Linked DNA regions of Homo sapiens. The protein of the gene in region 2 interacts with the protein of the main gene of each other region in a pairwise test. Each region holds a gene or a part of one and is shown on either strand. Other genes may lie near its edges.

What was found.
Region 1: the proteins of MPND (region 2) and SOD1 interact in binary tests that used the Homo sapiens proteins (3 or more experiments, as listed by UniProt).
Region 3: the proteins of MPND (region 2) and JPH3 interact in binary tests that used the Homo sapiens proteins (3 or more experiments, as listed by UniProt).
Region 4: the proteins of MPND (region 2) and NF2 interact in binary tests that used the Homo sapiens proteins (3 or more experiments, as listed by UniProt).

The regions. Positions count from the first base shown.
Region 1 is NC_000021.9:31,655,164-31,662,706, reverse strand, and holds the start of SOD1 (superoxide dismutase [Cu-Zn]), read right to left. Parts: upstream 3,015-7,543; 5' UTR 2,938-3,014; coding exon 2,866-2,937; exon of another isoform or gene 2,683-2,865; intron 1-2,682. UniProt on the Homo sapiens protein: Destroys radicals which are normally produced within the cells and which are toxic to biological systems.
Region 2 is NC_000019.10:4,338,864-4,346,578, forward strand, and holds the start of MPND (MPN domain-containing protein), read left to right. Parts: upstream 1-4,698; 5' UTR 4,699-4,730; coding exon 4,731-4,737; intron 4,738-4,844; coding exon 4,845-5,131; intron 5,132-6,881; coding exon 6,882-7,118; intron 7,119-7,715. UniProt on the Homo sapiens protein: Probable protease. Acts as a sensor of N(6)-methyladenosine methylation on DNA (m6A): recognizes and binds m6A DNA, leading to its degradation. Binds only double strand DNA (dsDNA) in a sequence-independent manner.
Region 3 is NC_000016.10:87,689,504-87,696,524, forward strand, and holds part of JPH3 (junctophilin-3), read left to right. Parts: intron 1-142; coding exon 143-1,023; intron 1,024-5,133; exon of another isoform or gene 5,134-6,638; intron 6,639-7,021. UniProt on the Homo sapiens protein: Junctophilins contribute to the formation of junctional membrane complexes (JMCs) which link the plasma membrane with the endoplasmic or sarcoplasmic reticulum in excitable cells.
Region 4 is NC_000022.11:29,606,617-29,613,637, forward strand, and holds part of NF2 (merlin), read left to right. Parts: intron 1-7,021. UniProt on the Homo sapiens protein: Probable regulator of the Hippo/SWH (Sav/Wts/Hpo) signaling pathway, a signaling pathway that plays a pivotal role in tumor suppression by restricting proliferation and promoting apoptosis.

The DNA.
Region 1 (7,543 bases), on a different chromosome or scaffold from region 2:
AGAAAATATTATATTCCACTGCCCCCAGGAGAGGACTGATTCTAGTCTAACCAGACGTACTACTGCTTTCTGAAATCTTTTCAAGCACTGAAACCTAGGTAACCTTTCCACTCTACCAAAATGAAAGCAAGCAGTATAGCCATTCAGGTAATGGTGACAGGTAATGGTGCTCCGTGGCTACATACAGAAATCAAGGAAGTTACAACTAGATCTCAGGACTAAAATAAACACAACATCCACACCACACCGTCATACAACATGTCAGTGTCTCTTGTTTTTAGCTTGGTTTGTTTTCAAATACGGCCAACAGTTAAGGGGCATTAACCCTTAAGATGTGACTTTCCACTGGAAAATATCATTGCTCAAATGAAGTATCCTGGCAATTGCTGCCTTTTTAAATTCTTTTCTTTTTGACAATAGATACTGTGACTCTTCTACAACCTTTAATTTTGGAAAAACTCAAATGTGAAAGTTGTCCCTCAAACACTCTGTTATCAAGAGCACAGGGCCAAAAACAGCAGGTTCTTTGAAACCTCCATTTAACCGGTAATACATTCAGGACATCTAAGTAGCTGTGCTCGGGTACAACCCTGCAGGGACCAGGCTATGAACTTAAGTGAATAACACAGGCCTGGGAAGCGAAAAAATATATGAACTGCTACAGCAGTACTGTCCTGGGCTAATGAAGGCTCAGTATGAAGAGATCTCCAAAAATTCTTCAAGAGAAGCTAGGAAAACTGGATTAATACGTGAAAAATTCTGATCTGTAAAAACTAGCAAAGAGTCCAAGATTTTAAACACGGAATAGGCCAAGCCAAGTAGCTGATAGCCAATGTATTATCTCTGCATATCTGGAAAGCTGGAATGCTCCACTATCCAAGGCTCATTCTCAGGTACAACGGGCACCAAACAAAACGAAGTCAGGCGCTTAAAAGAAGGAACTATGCAAGCTGCTCAGGGAAGGTGGAAAACCTGGGTTCATGCATGGATTCTCAATGGCCAGGGAGAAGGGATTCCTCAGAGGCGTCTTAAGAATAGCACTGGTGGCCGGGCGGGGTGGCTCACGCCTGTAATCCCAGCACTTTGGGAGGCCGAGGCGGGTGGATCACGACGTCAACAGATCGAGACCATCCTGGCCAACATGGTGAAACGCCGTCTCTACTAAAATATAAAAAATTAGCCAGGCGTGGCGGCGCGCGCCTGTAGTCCCAGCTACCCGGGAGGCTGAGGCAGGAGAATTGCTTGAACCTGGGAGGCGGAGGTTGCAGTGAGCTGAGATCGCGCCACTGCACTCCAGCCTGGGCGACAGAGCGAGACTTGGTCTGAAAAACAAAACACTAGTACTGGTGAATTATGTGGGGAGAAGTAAAGAGGGACAAAAAGAAGTCTGACAAATGAAACAGCAAAATGGAGTCAAATGCCAAAGAACCTTTTCCAGAAAATCTGGAGACCTATTAAAGAAAAAGGCTAAACTCATTATCTCCCTCACATATATTTCAGACATTTACACAGACTAACTGTTCCTGTCCTCTCACGTTTCTGTAAACCCCTTTAAAGACTGAATCTCATTCGTATAGTAAATATTCCCTCATGATTTTTAAGCCGAGTGCAAGAGAAAATTTTCCACCAGTTGGTAACTTCACTAAGGTTCTGGGGACAGTGTTATCACAAGCACCTTCCTTGCAACACGTTTTGTAATTTTACTGATAAAAGTTCTGAAAATATTTCTGTATATTTTACAAGAGTCGTTCAGAAGTTTGTCTCTGACCATCTTAGCAACCTGCCTACTGGCAGAGCAATTTTAAAGCCACTTTACGAAAATGTGGCTTAAGAAATGCTCCGACAACAGTTATTAAGTGCCAATTCGGTGTAATGGAAACTCCAGGTCTTCTAATTTCCAAATACGAAACTCCACCCACTGTCCTCAAACGACAGTTCTCAATCGTAGGTGCACATCAAAATCACTTTTGGAAACTTTCAAAAAACAGCAATACTCACCCTGCACTAGGACAGGTTTTGATGTAATTGGTCGGAGGTTGGGCTCTGGTGTATTTTTAGTAAGATCTTCAAATAAGCTAACTGTGCACCCAAAGTTAAGATCACTGCCCTCAAAAATCCCCAAAAGGGTCAGTTAAACCTCTGGCTCCCGGAGCTTAGGAGGAGGAAAAGGACCTCTGTTCAAGGCTACCTTCTCTGCCCTTGCAGCCCAATCATGACCTAGAACAGAGGCCAGCAAACTTCCCTGCAAAGTGTCACACAAACGGTCTCTGTTGCGTATTTTTGTTTTCCAAAGCCTTTTAAAAATATAAAAACCATTCCTAGCCTTAGAGCTGTACAAAAGCGAAGACTCCCTGACCTAGAGCGCTGAAGCCGGAAAGCGGAGAGGGATGCGAAGACACCAGGCGGGCCCAGGCGCAGTCGCCATCCCCGGGCTGGGCCTGGCACTGCGCCACTCGGTGTCCGCGGGACCCTCAGGAACGAGAACACGGCCAAGCAAGGGACGAGCACAGCCGCTCCAGGCACCACGACAGACCCGCGGCGGCGGCCCAAGGACCACAGAGGGCAGCACGCCCGCCCCCGCCCCTCCCCGGCCCGCGGCAATCCCTCCCCGCGCTCCCGCCACGCGCAGGCCCAGCCCCGCGGCGGCCTCGGTCCCACGCCCCGCGCCCGGGCCCGCCCGGTGACTCAGCACTTGGGCACCGCACCGCTGGGGGCGAAGGCACCGACCGGGCGGCACGGGCCGGGACCGGGCGCTGGACCAGGGCGGCCCCGAGGCCTGGCGGGCGACCCGCTCCTAGCAAAGGTGCGCGGGGGGACGAGCGGGTGGGAGCGGCCTCGCAAACAAGCCTCCGTCCCAGCCCTTGCCTTCTGCTCGAAATTGATGATGCCCTGCACTGGGCCGTCGCCCTTCAGCACGCACACGGCCTTCGTCGCCATAACTCGCTAGGCCACGCCGAGGTCCTGGTTCCGAGGACTGCAACGGAAACCCCAGACGCTGCAGGAGACTACGACGCAAACCAGCACCCCGTCTCCGCGACTACTTTATAGGCCAGACCTCCGCGCCTCGCCCACTCTGGCCCCAAACCAATCGCCTCGCACGCGCTCAGCCCGCCCCCTGCGGCAGCCTCGGGTCGCGAGTGGCCGGGAATGACTGGGGGCGGGGCCAAGGGGCCGCGTGCGCCGGAGACTCCCCCCGCCCCGCAGCCGGGAAACGTCCAGAACCCCGAAATGTGGAGAAAACAACCTTCTTTTCACGGGGGCGTGGCCCGCCGGTTGCAGTACGCGAAATTGGCAAAATGATGTAAACAGGGTACGCTTTGAAAATCTGAAGTCACTTTGTCTAGAAATGTCATTAGTTATGACTGAGTTTGGCCACAGCGTCTCATTTGTTACTCAGCAATTGGGACGCCCCAAGATGGATGCTTTTGTAGTTTTCATTTTTTTGTCTTGTTTTTTAGTTTTCTGAGGGTATAGAAAGTCGCTACACCTCAATCCCGGGACTTACCTTTTCTTCCCCTGCAATTTTCTTAGTCCTTAGTATAGAGTTTCTTATTTGGTTGGCAGAATTCGGTATTCTTTTTATATTTTTCCTGTTTGGCAAGGCCACAACCCTACAGATAACCAAACGGCAACTAGTTGGCTTCTAGGCATCACCTGCGTTTTTGTCTGGCCTAAAGGCCACAACACTCAAGGAGGGTAGAATGGTGAAATAATTTATGATGCCTCCATACAACAGGAATGATAAATATGACTTACCTTTCAAGGGAAATATTTCAAAAACATATTGTGAAATGAGAAAATAGTGCAAACTACTTTTGTCCGGGGCGAGGGGGTTGTTTGTTTGATTTTTGAGACAGGGTCTCGCTCTGTCACCCAGGCTGGAGTGCAGTGGCGCCATCATAGCTCACTGCAGCCTCCACCTCCTGGGTTCAAGCCATCCTCCTGCCTCAGCCTCCCAAGTACCTGGGACCACAGGCATGTGCCACCACACCTGGCTGATTTTTGTATTTTGGGTACAGATGGGGTTTTACCATGTTGCCCAGGCTGGTTTCAAACTCCTGAGCTCAAGCCAGCCATCTACCCACCTCGGCCTCCCAAAGTGCTGGGATTACAGACATGAGCCACCACGTCCAGCCTAGTACTTAATATTGAGTATGGCAAAATACTGAGACTTAATTGAAGTCCAGTGTGAAACAACAATAGAAGCTATTCCAGCCTCGTTTGGAGTACACTACTATCGATTTATTTACTTATTTATTATTTACGCTATTTAGACCCTCAGACTCTAATGCATCCTCTATCAGAGAAATACAATTCACATTTTTTTATCATCCTCTAGGAAGTATACATATTTGCAGTTTTGCCTGTTGTATTTGGTAGTAGTCTCCAGATAATTCGTATATTCTAAACGGTTGCATAAACAGTGCAAATGCTGGCCAAAGGGCCTTTGCCCAAGGCTAAAGTTTCTTTGGGTTCCAGGAAGTTCGGCAGATTTCAGTTCATTGTAAACTTGCCAAGGGATCCGCCCACAGACACGAGAGAGCTGCTTTGGGACAGTGAATTACTCTTCTTTTGAGACGGTCTAATGATGCCTGGGTGGTGCCTTCGTAGGATGGTCGTCACACCTGAACAAGGGGGTCCCTGGCCCCAGGCCCCATGCTTTACTGGGCCCTGTTCTGTCCCTCTTCTGGCATCATCTCCCATGGAGAAAAGAATGTGTTGAAGCCAAGAAGATGCTCCCCCCGCAAGAATATCATCTCTGCTAGAACAGGGGTAAGGAATTTAACTCTGTGATATTTAAGAGTATTTATATCTTCCTAATGCAGGGCATCGAATGTGGGCACTATGGACATTTTGGGCCAGACAGTTCTTTGCTGTGGAGGCTGTCCTGTACACTGTAGGATGTTCAGTAGAATCCCTAGCCCCTACTCACTAGATGCCAGTAATACCCTGTCCCTCCCTGCCAGGCTGGGATAACCAAAAATAATTCCAGACGTTGCCAAATCACTCCCAGTTAAGAATCACTGTTTTTATTTATTTATGTATTTATTTTGATATGGAGTCTCACTCTGTCACCAGGCTGGAGTGCAGTGGTGCAATCTCAGCTCACTGCAACCTCCGCCTGCTGGGTTCAAGTGATTCTCCTGCCTCAGCCTCCCGAGTAGCTGGGACTACAGGCGTGCACACCATGCCTGGCTAAGTTTTTGTATTTTTAGTAGAGATGGGGTTTCACCATGTTGGCCAGGCTGGTCTCGAACTCCTGACCTCAAGTGATCTGCCAGCCTCGGCCTCCCAAAGTGCTGGGATTACAGGTGTGAGCCACCACACCCGGCCAAGAACCACTGTTTAGAACACCACTTGAGTACCCGGATCCTGGAATTTCCTGCCCAAAGAGCCCTGAGCCTGTGTATAGGATCCTGAACAGGCCACACAGGGACTGTCCCTTGTTGAGTACACTGCTAGCCTTGAACGTAGGCCCTGCCCAGTGCCACAAGGAGCAGGGGTGGGGAAAGGAGGAAAGGCCAGGGGCGGGCAGGCAGCCAGCTCTCCACTGCTACCCTTCTACGTAGAACTGAAAGAAGTCCAAGAATTCCACATTTCAACCTGCCTTCCAGGTCTTTATGAAGGTATATTTGTTAAGACAGGATGATAGAGCCTTGGTTGTTTGGAACCCTGGAACGTGGGTTGAATCTGGCACATGTAATTAGCCGGGCATGGTGGTACACCCCTGTAGTCCAAGCTACTTGGGAGGCTGAGGTAGGAGGATCGCGTGGGCCCAGGAGGTTGAGGCTGCAGTGAGTTGTGATCGCACCATTGCACTCCAGCCTGGGCAACAGAATGAAATCCTGTCTCAACAATAATCATCATCATCATCGTGGAGTATCTAACTTAAATAAAATAAAATAGGGAAATCAGATGAGAGGGACCTTTGCACTTGAACCCCAGGGTTTAAAGAAGCAGAACAGGCAAACCCTGTCAGAAAGAAGAAAAGAGAGTGAGAGAGAAAGAGAAAGAAAGAGAAAGAGAGAAAGAAAAAGAAAGAGAAAGAAGAAGGAAGGAGGGAGGGAGGGAAGAAAGGGAGGAGGGAAGGAGGGAAGGAATTAGAGAAAGAGGAGAATGTGGCACATGTAGACAGTTCAACTTTGTCAGGAATGGTGAGGAGGAATAGATGCCTTAAATCAGATGGCGGCACGTGCAGATGACTAAACCGCTTGTAATGTGTCATTTCAGCCTTCCTGAGAGTGAAAATTCATGTTTGGGGACCTCTGTGGTTAAAAGGTGGGCAAAAAGGTAGACCAGAAATTTTTTTTTTTTTAGATGGAGTGTTGCTCTGTCGCCCGGGCTGGAGTGCGGTGGTGCAGTCTTGACTCACTACAGCCTCACCCCGCTGGGCTTAGGCAATTCTCCAACCTCAGCCTCCCAAGTAGCTGGGACTGCAGTTTCAATAATTCTCTCTAGACCTCAGCTGCAAATCAAAGGCACTGGGCCTAGATGCAGTGTTTATCAACCCTGGCTGCACAATAGAATCACCTGGGCAGTTGAAAACTAAAACAAAAAATACTGTGCTTAGGCCCAATTATATTAAAACCTTAAAATTGTATATCTTTATACTGTAAATACACATTTCATTGCTGTAAGAGTCATAAGAAACCCTCAATGGTTATCGATGGAAGTAGGCTGCTTATCTGTGTACTTTTCATCACGAGAAAAATAAACCTTTATTTGGTTAAATAGCGTAACCACATTTGTTACATGCAGTCAAAAGCAATTTCTAACTGACAGAGAGGAGAAGCCACCAGAGGGGTGTCCACAGGGAGTCAGAATGGTCTCTGGAATAGCTCAGTGGGTGGACTGAGAGCAGATGGGGTGAGACTCAAGGCAGAGAGGCCATTTGGGAGACAGGATAAGAGCCCACCTAAGGCCATCACTGGAAGAAAGCTGGGAGATCACGGAAATGCAACCACAAGTCCAGCCACCCATTAGAGGTGCATGGTGAGAGAGGGAAGGTAAGGGCAGCCCCCAGGTTTCTAGCCCCCTTGGTGCTGTTTACCAAGGAAAGCAGGTTCAAGGACAAAGGGCTTAATTCAGGACAGGGTGCATCTGAAGTGCCTGAAGAACCTATAAGTGCCAGGCTGGAATCATCCTCTTGGATATGGGTCTAAGCCTCAGGATCATTCTTAAGTCTGGACTCCATCTCAGAATTAACACACAGCCTATTCAACGTTCTTGTTTTATTTTGTTCTGTTTTTTTGACACAAGATCTCACTCTGTCACTCAGGCTGGAGTGTAACGGCATGATCTCGGCTCACTGCACCCTCGACTTCCTGGATTCAGGTGATCCCCTCACCTCAGCCTCCCTAGTAGCTGGTGTGTCCGGAATTGGTGGGTTCTTGGTCTCACTGACTTCAAGAATGAAGCCGTGGACCCTCGCGGTGAGTGTTACAGTTCTTAAAGGTGGCGTGTCCGGAGTTTGTTCCTTCTGATGTTCAGATGTGTTCGGAGTTTCTTCCTTCTGGTGGGTTTGTGGTCTCGCTGGCTCAGG
Region 2 (7,715 bases):
CCTCCCCTGCCAGGGCTGGGCAGAGGCTGATCCCAGCAGGTCCAGTGATCCTAGGGAAATCCCCGCCTCTCCGGTGTGGAACTGAGAACAGAGAGAATGTATAAGTCTACTTGAATGGGAGAATAATCTTCGCTATATCTGCAAAGACAGAGACATGGTCTGTCTCTTTATTTATTTATTTATCTATTTTTCCTATTTTGAGACAGAGTTTCACTCTGTTGCCCAGGCTGGAGTAAAGTGGTATGATCTTGGCTCACTGCGACCTCTGCCTCCCGGGTTCAAGAGACTGCGCTGCCTCCCGGGTTCAGAGACTGAGTCCAAGCTCAGTCTCCTGACTAGCGTGGATTGCAGGTGACCGCCACCACGCCTGGCTAATTTTTGTATTTGTAGTAGAGACGAGGTTTCCCCATGTTGGCCCAGGCTGGTCTCGAACTCCTGACCCCAAGTTTTCTGCCCGCCTCAGCCTCCCAAAGTGCTGAGATTACAGGCATGAGCCACCACACCTGGCCCTTTCTCTTACTTTGATGGACCCTAATGATTACATTGGGCCCACCTGGATAATCCACGCTACTCTCCCTATTTTAAAGTCAGCTGACTAGCAACTTTAATTTCATCTGCAATTTTTCTTTTTTAGACGGTGTCTCATTCTGTTGTCGATGCTGGAGTGCAGTGGCACGATCATAGTTCACTGCAGCCCTGACCTCCCAATCTCAAGCGGTCCTCCTGCCTCAGCCACCCGAAGAGCTGGGACTATAGGTGGGCACCACCACACCCAGCTAATTTATTTTCCTTTTTTAAGGATGAGTTCTCACTATGTTGCCTAGGCTGGAGTACAGTGGGGCGATCATGACTCACTGTAGCCTCGACCTTACAGGCTCAAGTGATCCTCCAGCCTCAGCCTCCAGAGTAGGTGGTACTACAGTTGCATGCCACCACACCTGGCTAATTTTTTTTTTTCTTTTTTTTGAGACAGACTCTCGCTCTGTAGCCCAGGCTGGAGTGCAGTGGCGTGATCTCGGCTCACTGCAAGCTCCGCCTCCCAGGTTCATGCCATTCGCCTGGCTCAGCCTCCCAAGTAGCTGGGATTACAGGTGCCTGCCACCACGCCCAGCTAATTTTTACACTTACTAGAGACAGGTTCTTGCTATGTTGCCCAGGCTGGTCTTTTTTTTTTTTTTTTTTTGAGACAGAGTCTTACTCTGTCACCCAGGCTGGAGTGCAGTGGAGCGATCTCGGCTTACTGCAACCTCTGCCTCCCAGGTTCAAGCAATTCTCCTGCCTCAGCCTCCCGAGTAGCTGGGATTATAGGCACGTGCCACCATGCCCAGCTAATTTGTTTGTATTTTTATTTTAGTAGAGATGGAGTTTCACTGTGTTAGCCAGGATGGTCTTAATCTCCTGACCTTGTGATCCACCTGCCTCGACCTCCCAAAGTGCTGGGATTACAGGCATAAGCCACCGTGCCCGGCCCTCAGGCTAGTCTTGAACTCCTGGGTGCAAGTGATCCTCCAGTCTAGGCCTCCCAAAGTGCTGGGGTTACAGGTGTGTGCCACTGTGCCTGGCGTCTATCTTTAATCTTCAAATCCCTTTGCCACGTATCCTAACGTATTCACAGATTCTGGGAATTAGGGCGTGGATATCTTTAAGAGACCATTATTCTGCCTACCACAGCCTGTTTAATATGGTGGACAATTGATTAATTTTGAATACTGAATCAGTCTTGGGTCCCTGGAGTAAACCCCACTTGTCATGGTGTATAATTCACTTTATATATTGTTAAATTCTACTTTGTAATATTTTGTTAAGGATTTTTGCACGTCTTCATGAGGGATATGGGGTGTAGCTTGCTTTCTTTGTACCGTCTTTATCTGGTTTTGGTATCAGGGTCATAGTTCCATAAAATGAACAGGGAAGTGTCCCCTTCAATTTTCTGGAAGAGATGATGTGAAATTGGTGTTAATTCTTCTTTGAACCTTTGGCAGAATTCCTTAGTGAAACCATCTGGGTCTGGAGATTGCTTTTTTGGGAGTTTTTAAATTACAAATTCAATTTCCTTAGTAGTTACCAGGGCTAGACTTTGTATACATAGCAGAACAGGTGTTCTAGAAATCACAGAAAGGCCGTGGGACTGTGGCAATGTGTTCATCCACTGAACTGTCTGATAAAGTTGATAGTATCAGCTATACTAAGTAAGGTCAGAGAGTTGATTTTTGTTTCGTTTTTTTGTTTGTTTGTTTTTTCAGACAGGGTTTTGCTCCTTTTGCCCAGGCTGGAGTGCAGTGGCATGATTTCGGCTCACTGCAACCTCCGCCTCCCGGGTTCAAGCGATTTTCCTGCCTCAGCCTCTGGAGTAGCTGGGATTACAGGTGCCTGCCACCACCCCCGGCTAATTTTTTTGTTTTTATTAGAGATGGGGTTTCACCATGTTGGTCAGGCTGGTCTTCAGCTTCTGACCTCAAGTGATCCCAAAGTGCTGGGATTACAGGCGTGAGCCACTGTGCCCAGCCAGGGTGGTTAGTTTTTATTGTATTTGTCTAAGGCAATGTGGAGCGACAGAAGGATTTACAGCATGAGAGGAGGGCAGGGTGCGGTGGCTCACGCCTGTAATCCAAACACTTTGGGAGCCCAAGTGGGAAGATTGCTTAAGGCCAGGACTTGGAGACCAGCATGGGCAACATAGTGAGATCCCCTTCTTTTACAAGAAAATTAAAAATTAGCCAGGCATGCTGGTCACGCCTGTTGTCTCAGCTACTCTGGAGGCTGAGGCAAGAGGATCATTTGAGTCCAGGAGGCCAAGGCTGCAGTGAGCCATGATTACACCAATGCACTCCAGCCTGGGAGATAGAGCAAGGCCCTGTCTCGAAAAGAAAAGAAAATAGGCTGGGCGCAGTGGCTCACACCTGTAATCCCAGCACTTTGGGAGGCTGAGGCAGGTGGATCACCTGAGGTTGGGAGTTCGAGACCAGCCTGGCAAACATGGTGAAACCCCTTCTCTACTAAAAATACAAAAATTAGCTGGGTGTGGTGATGTGCATCTGCAGTCCCAGCTAATTGGGAGGCTGAGGCAGGAGAATCGCTTGAACCTGGTAGGCAGAGGTTGTAGCGAGCCAAGATCTTGCCACTACACTCCGGCCTGGGTGACAGAGCGAGACTCCGTCTCAAAAAAAAAAAAAAAAAAAAAAAAAAAAAAAGAAAAAAGAAAAGAAAAGAAAACAAAATAATAATATGGGAGGGAGGTGGTAATAGGTGCATTTTAGAAAGAGCCCTCTGGGGCAATGGTGGAAGACCGACAGGGTGGGGCATGAGTTTGGAGGCCTGAGACTCACTGCGATGGCCAGGATTTGGGTGCAAGAGGCTGGAGGTGTGGCTCAGGGTTTTGGAAGGCAGGGGACGGAAAAAAAGCCAAAGAGAAAGTGCGTAAGGAGTTGGGGAAATAAACTGAGGCCGGTTTGGGCTATGCTGAGTCTGCAGGCCTTGGGGATGCCCGTTGTTGGCTGGACAGTCAGGGTGGGGCCCCTAAAGGGTGCCTGGGCTGGACAACAATAGTTCACATGTACCCAGCTCTTGCTCTATGTCAAGTCTTCTTCCTGAGAACATTCCCGAGCACCCTGGAGAGCCTCCCCCGCACCCCTACTGTCCAGTTCCCACTTCCCGACTGCGGTCTGGGCAAAGCCACCCGCACTTGAGCCCATCCCACGGCGTCCCGGAGCTTTAGGAAGTCCCCATCCCGGACTTTCAACCCTGCCAGGGACTGAGGGAAATCCCAGAGCCTGGGCTCCGGGACGAAGGTCCCAGGACAGGGTCGGGGATGTAGTTGCAGAAACAGGGTAGGGGACAAAGGCCGGGGCTGCACTGATCAGGCGCGCAACGAGCCCGGCCCTGCCTCCTGCTCCGCCCAAGGGTATGGAGGGCCGGACTCGGCTGGCCTTATACCCGGAGCTGATTGGCTGGTGAGTCCAGTCCCTGCCTCTGATGGTTTGCGCTCATAACTAAGGGTTTCTACTGATTGGTTTACATGGACGTCTGCCCATTGGTCAAATCCGAGTTGGTGTAATCAGATAGTTGACACGGATTGGTTGGTGCGGGAATCCAGTAGCTTGCTATCGATTGGTTGAGGGTGAAATAAATGGGACTCTTATCATTGGCTGGCGGGCTCCGCAACGGTCCAATCATGGAATCAGTCGAGGGCCGCCCGGGAGGGTGGGAGTTAATTCTTTAGCGACTGAGGCCGGCTTGGGCTCTTTGGCTCCACCTGTGTCTGCGCGAGGCTGTTCCCTATTGGAGTCCGCATTGTTCCCCTGGACCTGAGTTTCTCCCCTGGTCCTAAAGGCCGAGGCCTCTGAGTTCCTCAAGTGCGGTGACCGCAGGTCTCACCTTCTCCTCTCCTTGCAGCAGGCTGAGCCACTCGCGCACCCGCCCCAGGCTTCCACCTTGCAACCTCTATCCCTGGACAGCGAGGCCTCAGTTTCCCCATTCGCACCAATGAGCTCCCGGTCAACACCCCGTCACGCCTCAGTTTCCCGAATGTTCCCAGAGGGCTGAGTTCCCGATCTCTCTCCCGCGTGGGCATCCCCGAGGCCTCAGTTTCTCCGCCCACCCCAGCGCGCCGAGCCCTTCCCCCGACCCCGGCGACGGCCAATGGTTGGGGCGCCCCTCCCCTCCCCGGGGCGGGGCCGCGTGACGTGCCGGGAAGCCGGAGTCTAGAGCTCCGGGCGCGGGGAGGCGCGGCCATGGCAGGTACGGCGGGCCCAGCGGGGCGGAGGCGCGGGGCGCGGGGCTGCAGGGGCGCGGGGCTGCAGAGCCGTGGGGCGAGCGGCCTCCCTGCAGCCTCTCGCTGTCCGCAGCTCCGGAGCCGCTGTCCCCGGCGGGCGGTGCGGGCGAGGAGGCGCCGGAGGAGGACGAGGACGAAGCGGAGGCCGAGGACCCTGAGCGGCCGAATGCGGGAGCGGGCGGTGGACGCAGTGGCGGCGGCGGCAGTAGCGTCAGCGGAGGAGGCGGCGGCGGCGGGGCCGGGGCGGGGGGCTGCGGCGGGCCCGGGGGCGCGCTCACCAGGCGCGCGGTCACACTGCGGGTGCTCCTCAAAGACGCGCTGCTGGAGCCTGGCGCCGGGGTGCTGTCCATCTACTACCTGGTGAGCACCCCGCCTCCCTCGTCCCATCGCGGCTCGGGCAGGAAGGGGAAACTGAGGCCTGGAGTTCCCTTGCTGCAGGACAAGCTTCAGTGTAGGGAGGGGACACTGAGGCCCGGAGCTCCCTTGCTGAGAGACGAGCCCCGGTGTGGCGAGGGGAAACTGAGGCCCGGGGCTCCGTTGACTGCAGGAAGAGCTCCAGTGTGAGGAGGGGAAACTGAGGCTCGGAGCTCTCTTGGCTGCAGGAAGAGCCCCGACATGAAGAGGGGAGACTGAGGCCCGGAGCTCCCTTGGCGGCAGGAAGAGCCCCGGTGTGAGGAAGGGAGACTGAGGCCTGGAGAGCTCCCTTGCTTTAGGACAAGCCCCAGTGTGGGGAGGGGAAACTGAGGCCCAGAGCTCCTTTCCTGCAGGAGGAGCTCCCGTGGAGGGGACACTGAGGCCCGGAGCTCTTTTTACGGGACAAGCCCCATGTGGAGAGAGGAATCTGAGGCACAGATGGGTCCTTCTGGTGGGGAGGACGTAGATTACCAAACACCCCATCCCACAAAGGAGAAGCTGAGGCTCAGAGAGGAGCCACCACCCGCGCAGGGTCAGATGGGCAACACCCCGGCCTTCCTGTGGTTTCCCAGCCGTGAAATGGAATATTTCCCCACCATGGGAAAATTAGGGGATGGTTAAATGAATAAAGCCCTCAGCAGGCGCCTGCCACATGGTAAGCACTTTATCTGTGGTAGGTATTAGTACTTTTTTTTTTTTTTTTTTTTTGAGACAGAGTCTCGCTTTTTTGCCCAGGCTGGAATGCAGTTGCTCGATCTCGGCTCACTGCAACCTCTGCCTCCCGGTTCAAGCGATTTTCTGCCTCAGCCTCCCGAGTAGCTGGGACTACAGGTATGCGCCACCACGCCTGGCTAATTTTTTTTTTTTGCAGTTTTAGTAGAGACGGGGTTTCACTATATTGGCCAGGCTGGTCTTGAACTCCTGACCTCGTGGTCCGCCTGCCTCAGCTCCCAAAGTGCTGGGATTATAGGCGTGAGCCACCATGCCCGGCCTTTTTTTTTTTTTTTTTTTTTTTTTGAGACAGAGTCTCGCGCTGTTGCCCAGGCTGGAATGCAGTAGCATGATCTCGGCTCACTGCAACCTCTGCCTCCCGGTTCAAGCAATTCTCCTGCCTTAGCCTCTTGAGTAGCTGGGATTACAGGCACCCGCCACCACGCCTGGCTAATTTTTATATTTTTAGTAGAGATGGGGTTTCACCATGTTGGCCAGGCTGGTCTCAAACTCCTGACCTCAGGTGATCCGCCCGCCTCAGCCTCCCAAAGTGCTGGGATTACAGGCGTGAACCACTGCACCCAGCCCTGTATTATTACTATTACTGTTGTCATTATTGTTTGATTTGTGAATGGTAGCACATTATTCCCCTTCTGAATGGGAGTTTCTGAATGGAGCAACTGCTGAGTGTTGCATCCTGGAGACACAGCAGTGATCAAGACAGACAGACCCTATCCCCGATCTTAGGGGTTTCTTGGTCATGGTGGGCGGGGTGCAGATATCTGCCAGGCAGCTTGGTGCAGGCTGATCAGGTTTGTGGGTGTGGACTCCCAGGCACTGAGGAGGCCCTGCAGCCGGCCTGAGAGGTGTTCCTGGAAGCCCTGTAAAGACATGCCTGAGGGAGCGTAGGTCTGGGGAGGACCCCCCGGGAGAGAGGGCATGGTGGGTGTTGGTCCTGGGCCCAGCCAGCTGACTGTCACTGCAGGGGAAGAAGTTCCTGGGCGACCTGCAGCCAGACGGAAGGATCATGTGGCAGGAGACCGGGCAGACCTTCAACTCACCCAGCGCCTGGGCCACCCACTGCAAGAAGCTGGTGAACCCTGCCAAGAAGTCGGGCTGTGGCTGGGCCTCTGTCAAGTACAAAGGCCAGAAACTGGACAAGTACAAGGCCACCTGGCTCCGGCTGCACCAGCTGCACACGCCTGCCACGGCTGCTGATGAGGTACGTGCTGCAGCCTCCTCCAGGAAGCCGCCCAGGTCACTGTGGAATGAGGGGTGCCCAGCCTGGCACAGCTCTCTCCGGAGGAGGTATTAGTAATATATACAAACACGGATGGAGCCCTTACCACGTGACATGCCTCCTCCATCCCTCCAGGGCTGGGGCGGAGAGAGGGGACATGGGAGCTTGGGCTTTGAGGGATGAGCAGGAGTTTGTCAGAGCAAGTTGAAGGGAAGAGCTTTCTAGAAGGATGGAATGGCATACGCAAAGTCATGTAGACAAGAAGAAAGACCTGCTGGTGTCATGGGTGGCTGAGGGGGCTGGAAATGATGGCAGGGACCAGAGGGGCACTGGGGGAACTTCAAATGCTATGATAATAGATGTTCCCTGAGTGTTCACCAGCCGGGTGAACTTGACCAAGGACCCTTTGTGTGCCTTAGTTTTTTTCTTTTTTTTTGAGACAGGGTCTCACTCTGTGGCCCAGGCTGGAGTGCAGTGCCCCCATCTTGGCTCACTACAGCCTTCACCTCCTGGGTTCAAGCGATCCTCCCACCTCAGCCTCCCTAGTAGCTGGACTACAGACGCATGCCACCACACCCG
Region 3 (7,021 bases), on a different chromosome or scaffold from region 2:
TCCCTTGCCTGCAGCCTTTCGGTGAGTGGGAAGCGCCTCTGCTGCCCTGAGGTTCCCTCTGGCGCCCTGGCCCGGGGACCGCGGCCTCGCTGTGGAATGTGCTGGGTAACGCCGTCTGGCGTCGTCTTGTGTCCCCATACAGGGCTGGAGTACCAGAGGCCGAAGCGTCAGACCTCCTGTGACGACATCGAGGTGCTGTCCACCGGGACACCCCTGCAGCAGGAGAGCCCCGAGCTGTACCGCAAGGGCACCACTCCCTCCGACCTGACCCCCGACGACAGCCCCCTGCAGAGCTTCCCCACCAGCCCCGCGGCCACCCCGCCGCCCGCGCCCGCCGCCAGGAACAAGGTCGCCCACTTCTCGAGGCAGGTGTCGGTGGACGAGGAGCGGGGCGGGGACATCCAGATGCTCCTGGAGGGCCGGGCCGGGGACTGCGCCCGCAGCAGCTGGGGCGAGGAGCAGGCCGGGGGCTCCAGGGGTGTCCGCAGCGGTGCCCTGCGCGGCGGCCTGCTCGTGGATGACTTCCGCACCCGAGGTTCGGGCCGCAAGCAGCCCGGGAACCCCAAGCCGCGGGAGCGGCGGACGGAGTCACCCCCCGTGTTCACGTGGACTTCCCACCACCGGGCCAGCAACCACAGCCCCGGAGGCTCCAGGCTGCTGGAGCTGCAGGAGGAGAAGCTGAGCAACTACCGGATGGAGATGAAACCCTTGCTGAGGATGGAGACGCATCCCCAGAAAAGACGCTACAGCAAGGGCGGCGCCTGCCGGGGCTTGGGGGACGACCACCGCCCCGAGGACCGGGGCTTCGGGGTGCAGAGACTGCGGTCCAAGGCCCAGAACAAGGAGAACTTCAGGCCGGCCTCCTCCGCGGAGCCCGCCGTGCAGAAACTGGCGAGCCTGCGGCTGGGCGGGGCCGAGCCCCGGTTGCTGCGTTGGGACTTGACCTTCTCCCCGCCCCAGAAATCCTTGCCTGTCGCTCTAGAGTCCGACGAGGAGAATGGGGATGAGCTCAAGTCCAGTACGGTGAGTGGGCGGCCACCAGGCTGGTCCCAGTGGAGGCAACATCCACCTCTCTGCTGACCTGGTGTTTCCTGAGGGTTTCCAGCAAGGTCACTGCTCCCCTGTTCCTCTCCAGGGGTGGAGTAGGGTGGGGGTACAGCCGGGAGTGGTGGCCCTCAGGTCGCTGGGACCCTCCCCTAGGAAGCCAGGTGGGGCAGGTGTCATACCTCTTTCCGTGAGAGGCTGCCCCCAGGTTGTCCAGAAAGCACACGAAACTCCTGGTTTCCAGGCAGCATGGGATCCCTGCGCTCCCCGCAACGTGCTCAACCCCAGCTGCTCCAAGAGTCTGTGCCCCTGGTCAGTAGCCTTGGGCCGTGAGATGACCGCTTGAGTGTCCTGTGTCCTGGATAGGAACCCAGAGGCGAAACAGCTGGGGGCAAGGCTGGCCCTGGGGCTGGGAGTCAGGTCTGGGGTTGGGGGGAGCTGCCAGTCCAGGTTTCTCTCACCCATGGGGGGTGTTGGGGTTGGAGCCGGCTCCCACGTGAGGCCCGCTGTGTGCAACTCACCGTCAGCCTCACCCAGCACCCCCCCCCCAAATTCGTTCCTCCAGGGCAGGCAGCTTGGAGGGAAGAACAGCGTCCCCCTGGGCTAGACTCGGCGCGAGGCTGGGGGTCCCAGGCTAGACTCGGTGTGCGAGGCTGGGGGTCCTGGTGCCTCACACAGGGCTGGCCTCCCCTTGAAGGGACCTTCACTCTGCAAATCCCACCCTGCTCCCTTGACCAGTGCTGCAGGAATGAAGGGCTTTGGGAATGAAGGGCTGTGGGACGGTGGCTACATAGGATCTGCGCACGGCCAGGCCCTCACCCCAGCAGGGCTCTGCTCGCTCGTGGCTGCCAGGCAGTGCGTGGTGCTGAACAGAAGTGCTGCAAGCCAGTCTGCCCCTCGGGTGTGAGGACGCAGGGGGGTGTCCGCAGGGGGCGCTCAGGGCGTGTGGGCCGGGCAGGGGGGACCATTGGTAGGTTTATTGTCGACGCTGCGGCAGGGGTCGGTGTCTGTCCCTGCCCCTGACCTAGGGGAGCTGTGGTTTTCTCCTCCTGCCAGCCCCACCCCCAGAGGGGTCACCGCGTGACACCCCTTTGAAGGGGCACGTCCTGCCGGGCGGCAATGCCTGTTTCTGCCTCTCCTTGGAACCACTGCGGACGTCTGTCTGTCCTGTTGGGTTCCTAAGATGCCTCCCCGTTCCCCAAAGCCCACAGAGAACAGCCCCTATGCTCCTGCTGGGACCAAAATACCAGCTCACACTTACAACTTGATTTTCCCCATCGCAGCCGGAGATGTGTGCGTGGCTGTGCGCGCGCGGTTATTTTAGGAACAGCCAAGCAGTGGGCAGGGTGGGAGGTGTAGGGACGGGTTCTATTTTTAGCCTGCTTAATGCACTGACACTTTTGGGTGCTTTTAAATGAACCTCCCTGGGGGTCAATGCACAAGCTGGGGACAAGTGCCAAGCTGGCCTCTGGGATGAGTTAGCGACACGCAGGGTGCTACATGCTGCCCTGGTCCTGCCCGGTCTCCAGCTGGGGCTAATCTGGAGGTCCCGTCAGCTGCAGCATCATGTCCCACCCACCCTGGAGGATGCCAGCTGAGCTCCTTGGAAGTGGCCACCCTGGGGTACCTGGTGCTGGTGCAAACAAGGTTTCCCTCCCTGTCTCCCTCCCCGTCTCCCTCCCCACAGCTTTGGAGCTGTGTTTTCTGCCAGGTCTGTGAGGGGAGATGGTGTGTAGAGGCGCGGTCAATCCTAAGCACTGTTCCAGGCCCTGTTGGTGGGAAGCAGGAGGGGCCCGTGCCAGCCGGCATCCATGTCAGGGGACAGGTGTCAGGGCAGTCGGGTGCCAGGCTGGGCTGAGTGCCTTCAGTGCCACCCCCTCACAGGGGTACAGCTCTCTGCAGTGTCTCCCCTGGGCCACCAGCAGGGTCTGGGGTGCTGTCTTCTGGCCATCCCCCTCCACCATTCCCAACATGCTGCAGAGCTCACACGCCAGAGGCCCTGGGTCCCACTGGCCACAGATGGGCCTGGGATTCTAGCCCACATAGGGTCCCACTGGCCACAGATGGGCCTGGGATTCTGGCCCGTGTAGGGCCCTGGCAATTCAGGGTAAAGTCCCTTAGGATGGAAGCACAGGTTCTCCCTACCGCTCTACTGGTGAAGGAACTCTGGCCCTGGCTGTTTCCCTCTTGGTGAAATGATGGATATGACCTGATGGTGGGGTCCAGGGTTGGAGGATGGCTGGGGAGACAGAAGCTTCCCTCCTGCGGGCAGCCACGCCCTCGCCCACAGCGTCCGTACCTGCTTCCCGGCCCAGAGCACGGGCTGGACTGTGGCAGAAGAGGTGCCACTGACCACCCCACTCTGTCCTGCTACCCCACTACAGGCTGACTAGCATCCGGCCCTTCCTCCTCGCTGGGGTGGGGGAACTTTGCACCAGGGGTGGCATCAGTGGGCAGGGCTGGGCCCTTGGCTGTTCTCTGCCCCCTGCAGGCTGGCCCGGCCCAACCAAGTTGTCATGGGGCCCAAGACTCACAATACACCTGCCTGAGGCCACGATGCCACGGAAAGCTGGGCTCAGGGCAGCTTGCTTTCTCTCTGGCTGAGTGGAGGCCCTTGCTGTGTCCACAACTCCACTTCCATCTGCGCCTCAGGTCCCTGATAGGCTGGGAGGTTGCGGAGGGTGTGGGCCTGGTGCTGCTGTGGCTGCAGGTGCCCCCTAGGCAGCACCTCACCCTCTGAGGACCCTCCTCTCTGAGCTGCATCCCAAGGACAGTTTACAAAGCCCTTTGCTGACTGGGGTTCAGCTTATCTGTTGAGCAAACTTTTTCTTTAAAAAGTTTCTTGGCCAGGCACGGTGGCTCACACCTATAATCCCAGCACTTTGAGAGGCCGAGGCAGGTGGATCACCTGAGGTTATCAGTTCGAGACCAGCCTGGCCACCAGGGTGAAATCCTGTCTCCACTTAAAAATACAAAAATTAGCCGGGCATGGTGGCACACGCCTGTAATTCCAGCTACTCAGGAGGCTGAGGCACAAGAATTTCCAGAACCCGCAGGAGGCAGAGGCTGCTGTGAACTGAGATCATGCCACTGCACTCCAGCCTGGGCAACAGAGCGAGACTCCATCTCAAAAGTTTCTCAAGCCAGTGTCTCTAGGGCCTGAGGGCTCCAATCCCCAGTGTGAGGTGAGGCGCTCGGGCCTGGGAGCTGATGCCCAGCATACAGTCGGGGGTGCCCCTGCCAGGTGTGGTGCAGAGCACGGCGGGGGTGTGTGAGACCTGAGGATAGCGTCTGGATGTTTCTCTCACGTTAACGGGAATGAGATAGGCTCATTGGCTGCTCATCCCCAAATCCAAATGGAAAACCGCCATTCGGGCCAGGCAGAGGCAAGTACTCCCACCCGTTGCCGCTGCCGTGTTGAGCCCACCGTGCCGAGTGGTGTTGGCAGGAGCCTCCCGAGGAAGCTGTGCCAACGCAGGAGTGGTCAGAGCCTGTCCAGGCCACAGACGGGGCTACGATGAGCACTGCTGCCCAGGGCATGTTGGGGGCAGCTCCTGGAGACCACAGGGAGGGGAGGTGGGCACCCAGGTGTGGGCAGAACTGGACCAGGAGGAGGAGGGGCAGCAGCTTGCTCAAGGCACAGGGCCTCAGCCACAGGGTGGCGGGCTGGGAAGGGGCGAGGGTGTGGTGGGTTCTGAGTGCCCCATGCAACGGCTGTTTTGGGCCACGTGCTCAAGCAGGCACCCAGGGAAGACCAGCCTAGGTGCTGGCGTGAGGCCCTTCAACATCAGCTACGATGCTGCTTCATCAGGAGCACAGCCTGGGGAAAGAATGAAACTGACCCAGGAGACAAAAGGGTCCCCGGGCCAGACGGTCAAGCAGGAGGCTGCTTCGCTGCCGCGGGATGTGGCATCCAGGCTAGGCAAGGGGACGGCAGGCTGCCATCCCCAGAGGGAGTTCTCCGGGCAAGGCCGTGACCCCACTGGGGCTCTGAGTTTGCATCCTTCCTGTGTGTCAAGAGCAGAGCCGGCCACTGCCAGCCCATAGCTCCCATGGTGCGGCCCTGGAGAGCTGACTTCATGCGGGATGTCTGCTGTTCTTTGCGTAGCTTTACTGAGACAGAAAGCGTGTACTGTTCACTTCAGGTGGCCACAGTGTACAAGTCAGGGATTTTAGTGTATTCCCAGTTATACAGCCATCACCCCCAATTCTATCTAGATCAGCTCCATCACCTTAAACCTCAGGGCCATTGAGCAGGCACTTGCTGTCCCCTCCTCCCCCAGCTCCCGGACTCTGCTTTCTGCCTGGTGCCCAGCTTCTCACGCAGCATGCACTGCTCCTGCGCTTTCTCTGTGGCAGCCGCGGTTGCACGGCCCATGTCTTCCCCGCTGTGTGTTCATCCTCCACTGGACAGCTGGCTCTGCTTCCACTCCGTGGCTGTTGTGAATCCTGCTGCCGGGAGTGTGTGCACACACAAGGTTTTGAGTGGAGGCTTGACTTTGCCCTCTTAGATTTAGGCCTGGGAGTGGAACTGCTGGGTCCCCGGTGTTCTCATCAATTCTCTTCCAGTCTCTGGGAGAGGAGCCAGCAGCAGCTGCTTCGTTGTGGGTGGGGGGAAGGGGGAGGCCCGTTGTTCGGGCTCCCCTCCTTAATGCAGGCCTGAGCAGCCCTCACCTGGTGCCACATGAGCTACTCAGTCTTAACAGACCACCCCATCATGTCTTTGAAATTTGACCAGAGGCCAGACTTGGGGGCTTAAAGGAGTCCATGGAAAACCAGTCTGTTAACAGGGAGGGGGAGGAGAGTAGCCATCCCTGAGGAATGTGCATCCTGGGACCTTCAGGACAAGCCCTGGTCCATCTGTGTCGCACAGCAGCAGGATGTCTGCGTGGTAGGAAGTGGAGGGCTCCGGGGGCTCTGAACAGCTCCTTACCACAGTGGGGTCTACATCTCCTTCCAGGTGGCTGCGAGATGCAGGGCGTGGTGGGGGTGGGGAGAGGCAGGGGCAAGTGTCCTCTGGAAGCAGACTGTGGGCAAGACTGGAGTGGGTGTCCCAGCCATTCCTGGGCTGGGGCCACCGTCCAGGAGGCGTCCATTCCCTGTGCAGCAGGTACTGTATCTGTAGGGCAGCACCCACCCCTGCCGTCCTGGGAGCTTCCCAGAGGGGCCACGCTCCCTCTCCCCCTGCCTGGTGTGAGCAGAACACAGCAGAGTGCAGGACTGCAAGAATCACTGCAGAAGGGCGCCCCCGGAAAAGGCTCTGTTGTGAGACGTGTCCTACCTGGCCCCGGCAAGCACAGGGAAGGTGGCAGCTTGGTCCGAGTGCCCAGGCTGTGCGGCTGAAGGGGGAGTCTGGCACTTGGGGCTCCGGCGGAGGCTGAGGACTTGTGAGCCACTTCAGGGAGGTGGTGGCAGCAGCATTCAGGACCATAACCTAAATCCAAGGCAGCTCGCAATTGGACACAGTCCTCCAGAGCCAGTTGGCGTGAGGGGTTTGTTGAGGAAGGTGTGGTGAGGGGGGGTTTTGTTGAGGACACTGTGCTCACGGACTTTGGGAGTCCTCTGAGTTCCAGGGCCTCTCTGCTGGGCTGCATCTGACACTGGCCATGGCAGCCATGCGGGCCCTTCTGAGATTCTGAGGTCCCAGTTCCACAGGGCAGGAGAAGCCTGCTGACTGGCACAAAGGCCACACGCACCGAGACGTTTGCTTGCAGGGAGGCCTGGGTGGTTCTCTCCAAGGGGACCCTGGGAGAGCTGGTACTCAGGGTGTCGGGGCCACAAGGGAATTCCAAGGGAATTCCAGGACCAGCAACCTCAGACGTACAGGCAGCTGGGGCTTCTCTCCCGCGTCTGGACTTCACGGAGCTCAGGTTCTGGTGGGCCTTTGGTGTCCAAGCGTTTCTAACATCCTCCCGTACGCTTCCACCCCCGAGGGTCTGCTAGCTTGGTGAAAAGACGTGGGTGGGAGGCGTGGTGG
Region 4 (7,021 bases), on a different chromosome or scaffold from region 2:
GAAGGTTTTGGTAAGAGGCAACTGGGAGATCTGCGGATTTAATGGAGATGCAGCCTAGACTGTAGGCCTCCTGGTTTGCTGGAAAGAATTGGGGAATAAGACAGCTGGAAGAAGCCATTCTAGGATCAGAAGAAGGATCAAACATTGACCGCAGCATGGTGGCTCACGCCTGTAATCCCAGCACTTTGGGAGGCTGAGGCAGGCAGATCATCTGAGGTCGGGAGTTTGAGACCAGCTTGACCAATATGGTGAACCCCATCTCTACTAAAAATACAAAAATTAGCTGGGCATGGGGGCATACACTTGTAATCCCAGCTACTTGGGAGGCTGAAGCAGGAAAATCACGTGAACTGGGAGGTGGAAGTTGCAGTGAGCCAAGATCACGCCACTGCACTCCAGCCTGGGTGACAGTGAAGCTCTGTCCTGTCACAAAACAAAACATTGACCACAGACCTCTGAGGTGGTGGATGTCCCTCCTGTCCTGGTTGTATCATTATACATTGTATATTAATGTATCGAAATACTACAGGTACCCCCAACATGTGTACAACTATTATGAATCAATAAAAAACAATTTGAAAAGTAAGGTATGTGGCAGAGGTGGAAAAAAATGCTTTCCTCCAAACAGCCACAATTTGATTGTATCAGTTTGTAGAGTAAGAGCAAGTTATGCCTCAGTGTGTTGTTGAAAATAATAGAACAATATGCCACAATTAGTGGAGCTTCATAGCTGGGTGTGGTCAAGGAGAGAATAGAAGAGAACCCTACCAAAACCACTGTCATCCCAGGGTGACTGTGAGCATACCCAAAGCTGCACCTCCCTGAAGAGCAATATCATAGGCCTTAACACTTTTCAGGGGAAATGGATTTCACTCAAATAATCCAGCCAGTCGCTAAACAAATAAATAACAATTGGCCCTGGAGAGGGGGTACCAATCCCCAGAGTTGCTACAGTATATTATCTAAAATGTCCAGTTTCCAACAAGAAATTGTGAGACGTACAAAGAAACAGGAAAATATGACACATACACTGGAAAAAAGCTGGCAGCAGCAACTGCCTGTGAGACAAGGGGCCAAATTAATGAAAAAGGCTTCAAACTGGCCTATATATATATTCACAGTACTATATATATTCACAATACTAAAGGAAAATATGATGACAAAGAAGTAAAGGATGGTATGACACTGTTGCATCAATTAAAGAATATCCATAAAGATATAGAAATTATAAAAAAAGAATCAAATGAAAATTCTGGAGTTGAAAGTACAATAACAGCTGGGCGCGGTGGCTCACACCTGTAATCCCAGCACTTTGGGAGGCTGAGGCGGGCGGATCACCTGAGGTCGGGAGTTCGAGACCAGCCTGACCAACATGGTAAAACCCCGTCTCTGCTAAAAATACAAAAATTAGCCAGGCGTGGTGGCCGGCACCTGTAGTCCCAGCTACGCGGGAGGCTGAGGCAGGAGAATTCCTTGAACCTGGGAGGCGGAGGTTGCAGTGAGCCAAGATCGAGCCACTGCACACCAGCCTGGGCAACAGAGCAAGACTCTGTCTCAAAAAAAAAAAAAAAAAAAAAAAAAGTACAATAACAAATTTAAAAATTAACTAGAGGGACTCAGGACTCAATAACAGATTTGAACTGGGTGAAGAAAGAATTCGTTAATTTTTTTTTTCTTTTTGAGACAGAGTCTCGCTCTGTTGCCTAGGCTGGAGTGCAGTGGGGCAATCTCGGCTCACTGCAACCTCTGCCTCCCTGGTTCAAGCGATTCTCCTGCCTCAGCCACCGCACAGTGGCTTTGGGAGTACTCTGGGAGGCTGAGGTGGGTGGATCACCTGAGGTCAGGAGTTCAAGACCAGCCTGGCCAACATGGTGAAACCCCATCTCTACAAAAATACAAAAATTTAGTTGGGCATGATGGCGGGTGCCTGTAACCCCAGCTACTTGGGAGGTTGAGGCGGGAGAATTGCTTGAACCCGGGAGGCGGAGGTTGTAGTGAGCAGAGATCGTGCCACTGCCCTCCAACCTGGGTGACAGAGCGAGACTCCATCCCTGCCCTGAAAAAAAAAAAAAAGATGTGAAACACATACAAAAAAAAGTAAAATGGCAGTTGAATGCCAAGTAATTAGATAACTTCAATAAAATGGACAAACTCCTAGAAAGATATAAACCACCAAAATTGACCCAAGAAGAGACACTATCTGAATAGACCTATAACAAGTAAAGATATTAAATTAGTAATTGAGGGGACTCGTGGGGTAACTTGCCCTTGGGAACCAGTAGTATGGCATCGGGCTGCAAGATTGGCCTGTCCATCCTCAATGCTACCTGGCCAATTTAGGGGCCCAGTGCCTCTGGATGCTAGACTCTGGGGTCGATTATCTCCACCGGAATGTAATGGATGAACATGCATGTGATGGTGTCCAAGCCAGAACAGTGGGTAAAGCCAATGGCTATAAGAGGAGCCAATCAGTACATCTTTCATCTCGAGGAAACTGAGAACCCAGGGGCTTTGATTAAAGACATTCAGGAGAATGGGATGAAGGTTGGCCTTGCCATAAAACCAGGAACCTCAGTTCAGTATTTGGCACCATGGGCTAATCAACTAGGTATGACCTTGGTTATGACAGTGGAACCAGGGTTTGGAGGGCATAAATTCATGGAAGATATGATGTTAAAGGTTCACTGGTTGAGGATCCAGTTCCCATCTTTGGCTATAGAGGTCGCTGGTGGAATAGATCCTGACACTGTCCATAGGTGTGCAGAGGCGAAGCTAACATGATTGTGTCTGGCAGTGCTATGGTGAGGAGTGAAGACCCTAGATCTGTGATCAGCCTGTTAAGAAACATTTGCTCAGAAGCTGCTCAGAAAGATTCTCTTGATTGATGAAACCTTAAGGAGCCCAATGTTTGTTTATGAAATCTCCTTTTTACTGGAAAACAGGAATATTGACTACCAAATCATAGTGTAGTTGAAGCCATTCTGCGTTTTTGAGCAGTTATTCGTTTCAGTGATTATAATTGATTGTGCAGAGTATTCTAAGAAGTTAGAAATTGGTGTGTATAACTACATTTTCAGTGATGCAATTTAATGATTAGTGAGTGAGATACTGTTTTTATTGAGAGCCTTGATTTTTATAAAGAGTAAAAATATGGCTGCATTAAGGGTACAAACAGAAAAGTGTCTTAATGTCTAAGGAGGGCATATTAGCTACACTATAAAAACAATTTTTTTCTGTATTTCTGAAAAGAATTTTGTTGTTTCTCAGTTGTTTTCCAAAAGCAAAGGAAGTCTTAATGTTTTTTTCTATTTCGTGTTATGTGTGATTTGTTTATATGCTTGGTAATATGAGTCTAATGGAATTTAAAAATATAAGTTTGGGTAGGATAGTATACCCTTAAAAAATAAATAAATAATTAGAGAGAGAGAGAGAGAGAGAGACCTGGGCACAGTGGCTGTTGCCTGTAATCTCAGCACTTTGGGAGGTCAAGGCAGGAGGATCCTTTGAGGCCAGGAGCTTGAGACCAACCTGGGCAACATAGAGAGACCCCAACTCTAAAATATACATACTATATCTAAACTCAGCTAGGCGTGGTGGTGTGAGCCTGGAGTCCCAGCTACTCAGGAGGTTAAGGTGTGAGGATCACTTGATCCCAGGAGGTTGAGGAGGCAGTGAGCTATGATTGTGCCACAGTGCTTCAGCCAGGGTGACAGAGTGAGACCCTGTCTCTTAAAAAAAAGAAAAGAGGCTGGGTGCAGTGGCTCATGCCTGTAATCCCAGCACTTTGGGAAGCCAAGGTGGGCAGATCACGAGGTCAGGAGTTCAAGACCAGCCTGTCTAATATGGTGAAACCCCATCTCTACTAAAAATACAAAAATTAGCCGAGCATGGTGGAGTGCGCCTGTAGTCCCAGCTACTCGAGAGGCTGAGGCAGGAGAATCGCTTGAACCCGGGAAGTTGGAGGTTGCAGTGAGCTGAGATTGCGCCACTGCACTCCAGCCTGGGTGACAAAGTGAGACTCCATCTCAAAAAAAAAAAAAAAGAAGAAAGAAAAGCAAAGCAAAGCCCAGGCCTGTACCTACTAGAGGTCCTGATAACTTCACCACTGAATTCTATCAAACATTTCAAGAAAAATTAATACAGTTCTTCACAAAGTCTTCAAAAATGAAAAAGAGGAGAAAATACTTACAAACGAATTTTATGAGACTGGTATTACCCTGTTGCCAAAAACCAGGAAAAGACATTACAAGAAAAGAAAACCATAGACAAATATATCTTACAAATGTGGAAGCAAAAATCCTCAACAAAAATACTAGCAAACTGAATCCAGTAACATATAAAAATAATTATATACCATAAACAAGCAGGATTTATTCCAGGAGTGCAAGGTTGGTTTAACATCCAAAAATGAATTAGTGTAAATAATGTAATGCATTATATCAATAGAATAAAAAACAAAAATCACCTTGTCATCTCAGTAGACACAGAAAAAGCATTTGACAAAATTCAGCATGTTTTTCATGATAAAAACACTAAATAAACTAAGAAGAGAAGAGCAGTTCCTCAACCTGATACACAGCAGTTATGAAAAACCCACAGCTAACTTCATAATAGTGAGACTGAGGCCAGGCACAGTGGCTCACGCCTGTAATCCTAACACTTTAGGAGGCCAAGGTTGGAGGGATCACTTGAGGTCAGGAGTTCAAGAACAGCCTGGCCAACATGGTGAAACCCTGTCTCTACTACAAATACAAAAAAAAATTAGCCAGGTGTGGTGGTGCATACCTATAATTGTAGCTACTTGGGAGGCTGAGGTGGGAGGATTGCTTGAACCTGGGAGGCAGAGGTTGCAGTGAGCTGAGATAGCACTACTGCACACAATAGGCTGGGCGACAGAGCTCAAAACAAACAAACAAACAAACAAAATAGTGAAAGACTGTATGCTTATCCTTAAGATTAGGAAAAAGAGAGATAAGTCTACTTTCACTACTGCTATTCAGCATTGTACTGGAGGTTCTAGCCAGGGCAATTAGGCAAGAAAATGCAATAAAATACATCTATGTTGGAAGGGAACAAGTAAGATCATCTCTGCAGATGACATGATCTTGCATATAGACCCTGAGGAATCCACTACCAAAGTATTGGAACTAATAAATTATTAGTTTAGTAAGGTTATAGGATACAAGATCATTACACAAAACTTAGTTGTAAATGTATCCACTTGGAATGAACAATCTGAAAAGGAAATTAAGAAAATTCCATTTACAATAACCTAAAAAATAAAAATACTTATAACAAAAGAGGTATCTTTTTTTCCATCCTCTGACAGTTTAGTAAAAGAAAGTATAAAACTTATACTCTAAAAGCTGTAAAACATTTTTGGTTTTGTTTTTTAAATTAATTTTTTTTGAAACGGAGTCTCACTCTGTCGTCCAGGCTGGAATGCGGTGGCGCGATCTCGGCTCACTGCAACCTCTGCCTCCCAGGTTAAAGCGATTCTCCTGCCTCAGCCTCCGGAGTAGCTGGAGCTACAGGTGTGCACCACCATGCCTGGCTAATTTTTGTATTTTTAGTATAGAGGGGGTTTCACCATGTTGGCCAGGCTGGTCTCGAACTCCTGACCTCAGGTGATCCACCCGCCTCAGCCTCTGAAAGTCCTGGGATTACAGGCGTGAGCTAGTGCGCCCAGCCTGGCCTTTTAAAATATTTAATTAATTGATTTTTTTTTTTCTCGGACTTGCACTGAAGTGAGAACAAGTGCAGTGGTGCAATCATATCTCAGTGCAGCCTAGACCTTCCAGGCTTAAGTGATCCTCCTATATCAGCCTCCCAAGCAGCTCAGACCACAGGCATGCGCGATCATCCCTAGCTTTTTTTTTTTGTTTGTTTGTTTTTTAATTTCTTGTAGAGACAGAGTCTCCCTGTGTTACCCAGGCTGGTCTTGAACCTGACCTCAAGCAACCTCCCATGTTGGCCCCTCAAAGTGCTGGGATTACAGGTGTGAGCCACCGTGCCTGGCCTGTAAAACATTTTTAAAAGAAAGAAGATATAAATAAATAAATAAATAGAAAATAGCTCTTGTTCATGGATCATAAGACATAACGTTGTCAAATTGGCAGTATTTTGGAAATTGATCTACACGTTTGACATAATCCCTGTCAGAATCCCAGTTTATTTCATTGTAGAAATTGACAAGTCTCCAGGCGTAGTGGCTCATGCCTGTAATCCCAGCACTTTGGGAGGCCGAGGCAGGCGGATCACCTGAGGTCAGGAGTTCAAGACCAGCCTGGCCAACATGGAGAAACCCTGTCTCTACTAAAACTACAAAATTAGCCGGGTGTGGTGGCACATACCTGTAATCCCAGGTACTCGGGAGGCTGAGGCAGGGAATCGCTTGAACCTGGGAGGCGGAGCTTGCGGTGAGCTGAGATCACGCGCCACTGCACTCCAGCTTGGGCAACAAGAGCGAAACTCCATCTCAAAAAAAAAAAAGAAATTGACAAGTCAATTCATAAATTCCTATGGAATCGCAAGGGACCCACAATAGCTAAATCTTGAAAAAGAACAAAGCAGAAAGACTCACGCTTTGTGATTTCAAGACATACTATAAAACAACTAATCAAGACAACGTCACCAGGCACCGTGGCTTATGCCTATAATCCCAACACTTTGGGAGGCCAAGGCAGGCAGATCACTTGAGGACAGGAGTTCGAGACCAGCCTGGGCAACATGGCGAAATCTTGTCTCTACCAAAAATACAAAAATTAACCGGGCGTGGGGGTGCACACTTGTAGTCCAAGCTGCTTGGGAGGGCTGAGGCACAAGAATCCCTTGAACCCAGGAGGTGGAGGTTGCAGTGAGTCGAGATCGTGCTATTGCACTCCAGCCTGGGGGACAGAGCGAGATTCCATTTCAAAAAAATAAAAATAAAAAGACAGTGTGGTACTGGTATAAGGATAAATGTGTAGATCAGTGGCATAGAATTGAGAGTCCAGAAATAAACCCAGTGGAATAGAGTTGA